Linked DNA regions of Homo sapiens: region 1 is linked to region 2. Evidence: fine-mapped expression QTL. A gene starts in region 2. The other region holds a variant in brackets. All regions are shown on one strand. Distances are between the middles of the regions. Region 1 has its middle 23 kb from the start of CORO1A. Region 2 holds the start of KCTD13 (potassium channel tetramerization domain containing 13).

Evidence for each region. PIP is the estimated chance that this variant, and not a neighbour inherited with it, causes the effect. A credible set is the group of variants that fine-mapping cannot tell apart.
Region 1: its variant is the best candidate, but not a certain one, in a credible set for the expression of KCTD13 in cerebellum (GTEx, PIP 0.86).

Annotation. Positions count from the first base shown.
Region 1 is chr16:30,158,073-30,163,586 of GRCh38, forward strand. No RefSeq gene overlaps it. Among named protein-coding and RNA genes, the nearest start is that of CORO1A, 23 kb to the right of the region's middle. The variant G/A (reference allele first, on the strand shown) is at 3,279.
Region 2 is chr16:29,923,360-29,928,359 of GRCh38, forward strand. KCTD13 (potassium channel tetramerization domain containing 13) reads right to left here and starts at 2,867. Exons shown (of 6, transcript NM_178863.5): 1 at 2,431-2,867. The coding sequence starts at 2,674. KCTD13-DT (KCTD13 divergent transcript) reads left to right here and starts at 2,864. Exons shown (of 3, transcript XR_001752362.2): 1 at 2,864-4,323; 2 at 4,408-4,572; 3 at 4,909-5,000. RefSeq lists a silencer at 2,533-2,772.

The sequences.
Region 1 (5,514 bases), 230 kb after region 2:
GGGGGAGCAAGAGCATTAGGATAAAGCTAATGTATTCAGGGCTTAATACATAAGTGATGGGTTGATAGGTGCAGCAAAGCACCATGGCACACGTTTACCTATGTAACAAACCTGTACATCCTGCACGTGTATCCCAGGATTTAAAATAAAATATAGAAAATACTCAACAATCATAATAAGTGTAAAAGAATTTTGGTCGGGCGCAGTGGCTCACGCCTGTAATCCCAGCACTTTGGGAGGCCAAGGCAGGTGGATCACGAGGTCAGGAGATCCAGACCATCCTGACTAACACGGCAAAACCCTGTCTCTACTAAAAATACAAAAATAAAATAAAATAAAATAAAAATAAATAAAAATAAAAATTAGCGGGGTGTGGTGGCTGGTGCCTGTAGTCCCAGCTACTCAGGAGGCTGAGGCAGGAGAATGGTGTGAACCCAGGAGGCGGAGCTTGCAGTGAGCCGAGATCGTGCCACTGCATTCCAGACTGGGGGACAGAGTGAGACTCTGTCTCAAAAAAAAAAAAAAAAAAAAGAATTTGAAACAAAAACGTGAAACTTCTGTGATTCAAAGAACACCGTCAAGAAAGTGAAAAAACGCCTGCCTGCCCGCCTTTCTTTCTCTCTCTCTCTCTCTTTCTTTCTTTCAACAGTCTCCCTCTGTTGCCGAGGCTGGACTATACTGCCGTGATCTCGGCTCGCTGCAACCTCCCTGCCTCAGGCTCCTGTGATTCTCCTGCCTCGGCCTGCCGAGTGCCTGGGATTGCAGGCATGCGCCGCCACGCCTGACTGGTTTTTGTATTTTTGGTGGAGACGGGGTTTCGCCGTGTTGGCCGGGCTGGTCTCCAGCTCCTGACCTTGAGTGATCTGCCCGTCTCAGCCTCCTGAGGTGCTGGGATTGCAGACGGAGTCTCGCTCACTCAATGCTCAATGTTGCCCAGGCTGGAGTGCAGTGGCGTGATCTCGGCTCGCTAAAACCTCCACCTCCCAGCCGCCTGCCTTGGCCTCCTAAAGTGCTAAGATTACAGCCTCTGCCCGGCCGCCACCCCGTCTGGGAAGTGAGGAGCGCTTCTGCCCGGCCGCCACCCCGTCTGTGCTGGGTGTGGTGGTGGGCGCCTGTAGTCCCAGCTTTTTGGAAGGCTGAGGCAGGAGAATCGCTTGAACCCAGGAGGCGGAGGTTGCTGTGAGCTGAGATTACACCACTGCACTCCAGCCTGGGCGACAGAGCAAGACTCCATCTTAAAAAAAAAAAAAGGCCGGGCACAGTGGCTCACGCCTCTAATCCCAGCACTTTGGGAGGACAAGGCAGGTGGATCACGAGGTCAGGAGATTGAGATCATCCTGGCTAACACGATGAAACCCCGTCTCTACTAAAAATACAAAAAATTAGCCGGGCCTGGTGGCAGGCACCTGTAGTACCAGCTACTTGGGAGGCTGAGGCAGGAGAATGACGTGAACCTGGGAGGCGGAGCTGGAAGTGAGCCAAGATCGTGCCACTGCACTCCAGCCTGGGCGACAAAGCGAAACTCCATCTCAGAAAAAAAAAAAAAAAAGTAAGAAAAGAAAAAAAGAAATGTAAAATAGTAAACAGAAATATCTCCCAGCTCTTAAAATTAGGCAATTCTGTTGGAAAGGACATAACTCTGAATAGAGGTTATAAGGAAGAGTTTGGATTTAACAGGAGAGTGCCAAGAAGCTCTTCCAGTTTACAAAGCAGGAGAGTATCATTAAGCCTGTGTTTTAGAAGATGACTGCATTCTGTGATTCTGAAATAGCTATATATAGGTTGCTCGTGAAATCTGTGCTGCTAGTCTTCTTTTTTTTTTTTTTGAGACAGAATCTTGCTCTGTCCCCCAAGCTGGAGTGCAGTGGCACGATCTCAGCTCACTGCAACCTCCGCTTCCTGGGTTCAAGCAATTCTCCTGTCTTGGTCTCCTGAGTAGCTGGGATTACAGGAGTGCACCACCACGCCCAGCTAATTTTTGTATTTTTAATAGAGAAAGGGTTTCCCTGTGTTGACCAGGCTGGTCTTAAACTCCTGACCTCAGGTGATCTGCCCGCCTCGGCCTTCCAAAGTGCTGGGATTACAGGCGTGAGCCACTGTGCCCGGCGTCGCTAGTCTTCTCTTACTGAAGTGAAACTCACCTCTATTCTTTTTTTTTTTCTTTTTCTGTTTTTGAGACAGAGTCTCAGTCTGTCACCCAGGCTGGAGTGCAGTAGCTCGATCTCGGCTCACTGCAGCCTTCACCTCCTGGGTTCAAGTGATTCTCCTGCCTCAGCCTCCCAAGTAGCTGGGATTATAGGAGTGCATCACCACGCCCAGATAATTTTTTTTTTGTATTTTTAGTACAGGTGGGGTTTCACCATGTTGGCCAGGCTGGTTTTGAACTCCTGACCTCAAATGATCCACCGGCCTCGGCCTCCCAAAGTGCTGGGATTACAGGTGTGAGCCATAGTACCCAGCCAGAAATAAATTTATTGACTGATATAAATTAAAATTCCTGTGTATAGCTGGCTTCAGGAAAGCCTGAATAGGTGTTCAAAGAATGTCATCAGGAACTTGTCTCACCAATCCCTTACCTGTGTTAGCTTCAATTAAAAAAACATATTTTTGGGCCGGGCGCAGTGGCTCACACCTGTAATCCTAGCACTTTAGGAGGCCGAGGTGGGTGGATCACCTGAGATCAGGAGTTTGAGACCAGCCTGGCCAACATGATGAAACCGTCTCTACTAAAAACATAAAAATTATCGGGCGTGGTGGTGCATAACCGGGCATGGTGGTGCATGCCTGTAATCTCAGCTACTCGGGAAGCCGAGGGAGAATTGCTTGCATCTGGGAGGCAGAGGTTGCAGTGAGCTGAGATCGCAACATTGCATTCCAGCCTGGGCAACAAGAGTGAGACTCCATCTCAAAAAAAAACCAAAAAACAAAAACAAAAAACATTTTTTTAAGAGACAGTTTCACTCTGTCGCCCAGAGCTGGGTCCAGTAGTGCAATCACAGCTCACTCTAACCTCAAAGTCCTGGACTCAGGCATTCCTCCTGTCCCAGCCTCCCGAGTCACTGAGACTATAGGCAAGCACCAGCACGCCTGGTTACTTTTTTTTTTTGAAACAGGGTCTCCCTCTGTTGCCTATGGTGGTATGCAGTGGTGCAATCATGGTTCATTAGAGCCTCAATCTCCGAGGCTCGAGCAATTTTCCCGTGTCAGCCTCCAAAGTAGTTGGGACTACAGGTAAGTGCCACAATGTCCAGCTAATTTTTTTTTCTTTTTATTGAGAC[G/A]GAGTCTCGCTCTGTTGCCCAGGCTGGAGTGCAGTGGTGCAATCTCGGCTACAACCTCCGCCTCCCGGGTTCAAGCGATTCTCCTGCCTTAGCCTCCGAAGTAGCTGGGACTACATGCGCGTGCCACCACGCCCGGCTAATTTTTTGTATTTTTATTAGAGACGGGGTTTCACCGTGTTAGCCAGGATGGTCTCGATCTCCTGACCTCATGATCCACCTGCCTCGGCCTCCCAAAGTGCTGGGATTACAGGCATGAGCCTCCATGCCTGGCCTGTCCAGCTAATTTTTAAATTTTTTGTTTTAGGGATGAGGTCTTGCTATGTTGCCCAGGCTGGTCTTGAAATCCTGGCCTCAAGTGATTCTCCCCTGGCCTCCCAAAGTGCTGGGATTACAGATGTGAACCACTGCGCCCGGCTGTTAGCTTCATTTTCAGGCAGCCTCTTCTTTCTGCCATTTTGCCGACCAGAGTCGAAAGAAATCTCATCCCTAAAAGTTCCTGCAATGGTGCTTGGGAAGAATCTCATTGGTCTACAGTAGGTCATAAATTCTTCTGTAAACTAATCACCATGGGGAAGAGGAGGTAAGGTATGTTCTGCTCGGCCAGGGTAATAGCAGTGGGAACAGAGGATGGACTGGCCAGGAAATAACATGGTGGAGGCAGAGTATGCAAGTGCTCATTGCTTAGCAGTGTTGGGAAAGAAAGAGGATTTTATCTATTGAATGCCAGCCATGTGTTGGCCACTGTGCTGGGCAAATGCAACTCATTTTGAAGGCCAGACATGGTGTGGCTCATACCTGTAACCCCAGCACTCTGGGAGGCTGAAGCAGGAGGATCACTTGAGGCCAGGAGTTTGAGACCATCCTGGGTGACACAGTGAGATCTCATCTACAAAAAATGAAAAATTAGCTAGGTCCAGTGGCTCGTGCCTGTGGGCCCACCTCCTGGGGAGACTGTGGCAGGAGGAGGATTGCTTGAGCCTGGGATGTCAAGGCTGCAATGAACCATAATCACACCACTGCACCCCAGCCAAGGCGACAGAGCAAGATCCTGTCTCAAAGAAACAGACAACAACTCAGTCTGTGGAAGAGGGGGACATATAAACAATGACTATCCAATGTACCAGTTACAATGATTGAGGTATACAGCAAGGGCCACTAACACAAAACAGAAAGGAAAGCATTTGGGCAGTGACTGTGGGTCAGGGGAGAGGCAGTTCCCAGAGAAGGAAATCTTGACTTGAGTTTTATTTATTTATTTTAATTTTTATATTTTTGAGATGGAGTCTCACTCTGTCACCCAGGCTGGAGTACAGTGGTGCGATCTCGGCTCGCCGAGCCACCACACCTCGCCAGGTTTCAAGGGATAAGTAGGATACATGAAAGTTTGGTAGGAAACAAAGAGTAAGAGATTTCAGGCCCAGGCTGGGCACGGTGGCTCACACCTGTAATCCCAGCTCTTTGGGAGGCTGAGGCAGATAGCTTGAGTTCAGGAGTTCGAGACAAGCCTGGGCAACATGGCAAGACCCTGTCTCTAAAAAATATATAAATTAAAAATAAATTCAGGCCAGGCGCAGTGACTCACATCTGTAATCCCAGCACTTAGGGAGGCCAAGGTGGGTGGATCATTTGAGGTCAGGAGGTTGAGACCAGCCTGACCAACGTGATGAAATTCTATCTCTACCAAAAAATTAAAAAATTAGTCAGGTGTGATGGTGCATATCTGTAGTCCCAGGTACTTGGGTGGCTGAGGCAGGAGAATCACTTGAACCAGGGAGGTGGAGGTTGCAGTGAGCCGAGATGGTGCCACTGCACTCCAGCCTGGGTGACAGAGCAAGACTCTGTCTCAAAAATAAATAAATAAATTAATTTTAAAAAAGAGATTTCAGGCCCATGTCAAGGGCAAAGAACAGAGTCAAAAAAGAAAAATTGCTGGCCAGGGCAGGGCCTGGTGGCTCATGCCTATAATCTTAGCAGTTTGGTAGGCTGCGGTGGGAGCATCACTTGAGGCCAGGAGTTTCAGACCAGCCTGGGCAACATAGCAAATCCCTGTCTCTATTTCTTTAAAAAAAAAAAAAAAAATCTGGCCAGAAAAACCACATCCAAACCAAAGACATATTTAGTTTTGCTCGCACAACATTTTTAGAAATTTTTGAATTAGTTGCCAACATTGAAAGATCTAGAGCTTTCACATAAAAATCCATATTTCTACTTTATCTTGAAAAGCCAAGTTTGGCTA
Region 2 (5,000 bases):
CTAGTGGGGTGGGGAGAGGCAGGGGGAAAGATGGCTTTGCTGCGGGACCTGGAGCTACTAAATTAAAAAAAAATTTTTGTAGAGATGGAGTCTCACTATGTTGCCCAGGCTGGTCTTGAACTCCTGGGCTCAAGTGATCCTCCCATCTCGGCCTCCCAAGTACTTGGATTATAGGTGTGAGCCACCAAACCTGGCCTAAATTATAAGAAAAAAGGATTCCAGCCAGGCGCGGTGGCTCATGCCTATAATCCCAGCACCTTAGGAGGCTGAGGCAGGCAGATCACCTGAGGTCAGGAGTTTGAGACTAGCAGGACCAACACGGAGAAACCCCATCTCTACTAAAAATACAAAATTAGCTGGGCTTGGTGGCTGGTGCCAGCTACTCGGGGGGGGGCGAGGCAGGAGAATCGCTTGAAGCCGGGAGGTGGAGTTTGCAGTGAGCCGAGATCGCGCCATTGCACTCCAGCCTGGGTAATAAGAGGGAAACTCCGTCTCAAAACAAAAAAATAAAAAAAGAAAAGTAAAGAAAAGAAGGCCGGGCACGGTGACTGACGCCTGTAATCCCAGCACTTTGGGAGGCCGAGGTGGGCGGATCACCTGAGGTCAAGAGTTCGAGACCAGCCTGACCAACATGGAGAAATCCCGTCTTTACTAAAAACACAAAATTAGCCGGGCATGGTGGCGCATGCCTGTAATCCCAGCTACTCAGGAGGCTGAGGCAGGAGAATTGCTTGAATCCGGGAGGTGGGGGTTGCGGTGAGCCGAGATCGTGCCATTGCACTCCAGCCTGGGCAACAAGAGTGAAACTCCATCTCAAAAAAAAAGAAAAGAAAAGAAAAGAAAAGAAAAAGGATTCCAAAGCCACAAAAAAGTCTGAATACTGATCTGTCTCAAACCTGTGCCACAGCCAAGAAATCTCTTTAAAACATCTCCAGCGAGTTCTCCCTTAAGTTTTTATACATATTCAACCAGATAATTAACTCATCCATATCTGGTCTACAGTCAGAAGGCTCTCACCATGAGAAAGTTCTTGCAGAATTACCTTATCAATAAACTGTTAACCCCCGAAGTTAATTCTCACCATCCTATTTAATTAAAATGTCTACCTCCCCCCGTCCAGTTCACTGCCATTTTAACTTTTATATTCTTCATAGAGCTTACTATCAAAAAAAGAAAAAAGAAAGAACTTACTACTATCTGCAATTGCATATGCATATACATTTTGTTTACTTGCTTATTGGTCTTCTGATCTCCCACTTCCCTAAAAAAAGGGAATTTCCATAATTTTGTCAGGTTCATTTACCTATCTCCAGCACTAACTGATATTTTACAAATACTTATTGGACAAATGAATTCTTCCCTTTTTTTTTTTTTTTTTTGAGACAGTCTCTCTCTGTCGCCCAGGCTGGAGTGCAGTGGCGCTGTCTCGGCTCACTGCAACCTCCGCCTCCCAGGTTCAAGCGATTCTCCTGTCTCAGCCTCCCGAGTAGCTGGGCTACAGGCGCACACCACCACGCCCGGCTAATTTTTGTATTTTTAGTAGAGACGGGGTTTCGCCATATTGGTCAGGCTGGTCTCGAACTCCTGACCTCAGGTGATCCACCGCCTCGGCCTCCCAAAGTGCTGGGATTAAAGGCGTGAGCCACCGCACCTGGCCGAATTCTTCACCTTTGATACTTGAAGGCAGATCTCCGCCTCTCAAATTTTTATTCTCCTGCTCTCACAGTCCTCGTTAACCCCTCCCTTAAGACTCTCCCACTCCCAAACTCCAAAACTTCAAAGTCTCACTTGGGCACGAAGGGTCCATACTTGAATGCAACACTCCAAGAAGGTAAGGTTCACCTGCCAAGGAGACCTGTCCACCCTCCACTCTGGTGTCCCTGGCAAACCCAAAGCAGCCTCCTTCTGCAATGTGTGTATACAGGTGGATTCCTAGAGTGTACAGGGACCTGTGTCAGGGGAACACAGAGGCAAACAAGATCTCCCAGCTCTCCTGGCTGGCTGTGAGCAGTTCTGAAGCAGAGAGGGAAACAAAAGGCTGGGCAGTCGGAAGAAACTGAGGAAGGCTGCCAGGAGTAGTACTGCAGGCAGCAGGGCTAGTTCCCAAGTCTTGAGCTGAGGGGTGAAGGGTGGGAGAGGTGGTCATGAGGATTATGAACTGACACGTTCAATCACTTACCACAGCGCCTGGCAGTTAGGGGTTCCGTAAGTGTTGGTTATTGCTGGGGGTAAAGGATTGGGGGAGGAGAAGAGAAATTATGAATGAGAAAGGGGAGGAGATGGGATGTGGGGGCTGGAGGGAGCTGAGAATGAGTTGACTGGACAGTAGCGGGCAGAGAGAAGGGGCATGAGGAGCCCCGGTGGTGAGAGACTGCGGGGAACGGGAGTTGGGGGTCTGGGGTGGGGGCACGGTAGGGGCGCCGCTCGTACCTCCGGCATCGGTCAGCACCTCCACGCGGCCGCTGAACATGGCTTTGAGCATGGTGTCCTGTCCCGTGAGGGTGCGCAGCGTGGTGTAGTGCAACGAGCCGCCCACGTTCAGCTTCACGTATTTGCTGTTCGGGGTCAGCGGCTTGAGACCGTAGGCGGCGGGGCCAGGCTCGAGACCCGAGGGCTTGGGGGCTTCCAGGGACGGGGCCGCGGCGGCAGCCGGGCCCGAGGCCTCCGCCGACATGCCGGGTAGCAGCGGCGGACGGCGATCCCAGGATCTCTCCGCGCCCTGCGGCCTGCTCCCGAAGACCCTCGGCCGGCCCCCAGCCCTTGGGCCAGACCGCTCGGCGCACACGCCCACTCACCGCAGCTACTCTGCAAGACCGGCCCTCCGCCCCATCTCGCTCGCACCACCCGGAAGCCGGCGCCGGGCAGCTGCGCAGGCGCGGCCCCGCCCCTGAATGGGGGCGGGGCTGCGAGTATGGAGCATGCGCAGTGGCCTCGCTGGGGGATCCCGTAGAGGTTTGGCGTGTGGCCTGCGGGTTCCCCGGGCGGGTCGACGTGCGCTCCTCTCTGGTCTCGAGTCACCAGGACCAGATCGAGGATGCGGCCGACCCCCTGCCCGATGTGGAAAGCGAAGTCTCCACCTCGTGATTGGGTCTCTGCTGTCAGAGAGCTTCACGAGCTTGAGGGGAAACAGACAGAGAGGTCTGGGCATTGGGCAGTTTCCCGCCTCCCAGCCCCGCGCACTGAACAGACTGTGACCAGAACTGCGAACAAAGCGCGGAGGGAAGCTCTTAAAGGAGGCCAAAGCGGCCGGGCGCTGTGGCTCACACCTGTAACCCCAGCCTGTAAGCCTAGCTACTCGGGAGGCCGAGGCAGAAGGAGCGCTTGAAGCCAGGAGTTGGAAGCTGCAGTAATCCGTGATCGGACCGTTGCACTCTAGCCTGGGCAACATAACGTCCTTTGAAAAAAAAAAAAAAAACAGAGGCCAAAACGGGTAGCAGTGGTGCCCGGGCACCAAGGATGGAAGGCCTCTCTGAGGAGGTGATGCCGAGCTGAAGCTGGGAAGCGGATGTGAGGGAAGAGTTCCAGGCAGAGGGAAGGCAAATGCAGAGATCCTCAGGCAGGAACACTGAACTGTTCTCCGTATTTGAGGAGCAGAGGGCGTGTCAGTGGTGGCCGCAGCAGCTGAGCAAAGGTCTTAGAATCCCAGCTAATGTCGTGGGACCTAGCACCCAATCCCAAAAGAAAGAAGAATAGATAGGAACCCACTGTTGACAAGAAGGTGCACTGAGAAGTGTTTTTATCTGACCCGATCTGCATCCAGTTTAGAAGCCGATACATCAGGGATTTAACAATCTGTCTTAATGTCTAGCAAGGGGGGTTGCTGGAGGGAAAACACAGAGTCAGAGTTCTATCTTCAGCCCTGCCAGCAGGTCCCTGGGAGATGCTAGACGAGTGACTTTTCTCTGGGCGTGGTTGGTGTAAGGGATGCACACGCAGGAGGAAGGTCGGAGTGTAAATGTGTGACCTGGGCCTGTTACTGGGTATAAATGGGCCTGTAGTGACCGGGAGCTCATGTTCTACCAAAGGGGTTGCCAATTTTCTGATTTCGAGTGTGGCGGTGTAAAAGAGAAAAGCAACTGCTGCCAGCTGGGAGCTGGTTTGCACCCTCACTCCAGAAGCCTTGATGTTGCTAGGAGCTGACCTGGCACCAACAGCACGGCCATGGTGGTGTCCTGTTGAGCAAAATAATTTCACAAAAAACATCAGACAAGGTCACTCTCTGACTGATCTAGAAAAAGACCATTCCATAATAAAGCCTCAATACAGAAACAAGAACATTGTCCAAACCACAAAAATTACCAACACAATCCTCTCTCCCACAGCGTAAGTTACTGCTGCTTTTTTTTTGGTTGTTGTTTTTGTTTGTTTTGTTTTGTTTTTGAAATGAAGTCTTGCTCTGTTACCCAGGCTGGAGTGCAGTGATGCAATCTTGGCTTACCACAACCTCCACCTCCAGGTTCAAGCGATTCTCCTGCCTCAGCTTCCAGAGTATCTGGGATTACAGGCACCCACCATCATGCCCAGATCATTTCTGTATTTTTAGTAGAGACGGGGATTCACCAAGTTGCCCAGGTGAGTCTTGAACTCTTGACCTCCGGTGATATGCCCACCTTGGCCTCCCAAAGTGCTGGGACTACAGGTGTGAGCCACTGCACCTGGCCACTGCTGCTTCTTTACCAAGTACAGTTTTAGCTTGATTCATTCCTCCCATCTTCTAGATAAGAATTATTAAGATAACCAAAAAGAATTATCCCTACTTCCTGATAGCATCCAACCCAGAGCAAATGCCCCCCTTTTTGGACCCGCCTAGGAAGTCCCCTAATGAAAGTTCCAATCCTGTAATAAGTCCTTTCACACATGTTCTTGCTGAGATGTCTGTGGTGTTCAGCCTCCCTTGTTCAACTACAGGTGCTTCCTGGTGGTCCTTGGTTGGAGGGTACTATCAGAAATGGAGGAGCAACAAAGATTCAGCTGAAGCCCTCACTGCCTGGGACTGGGAC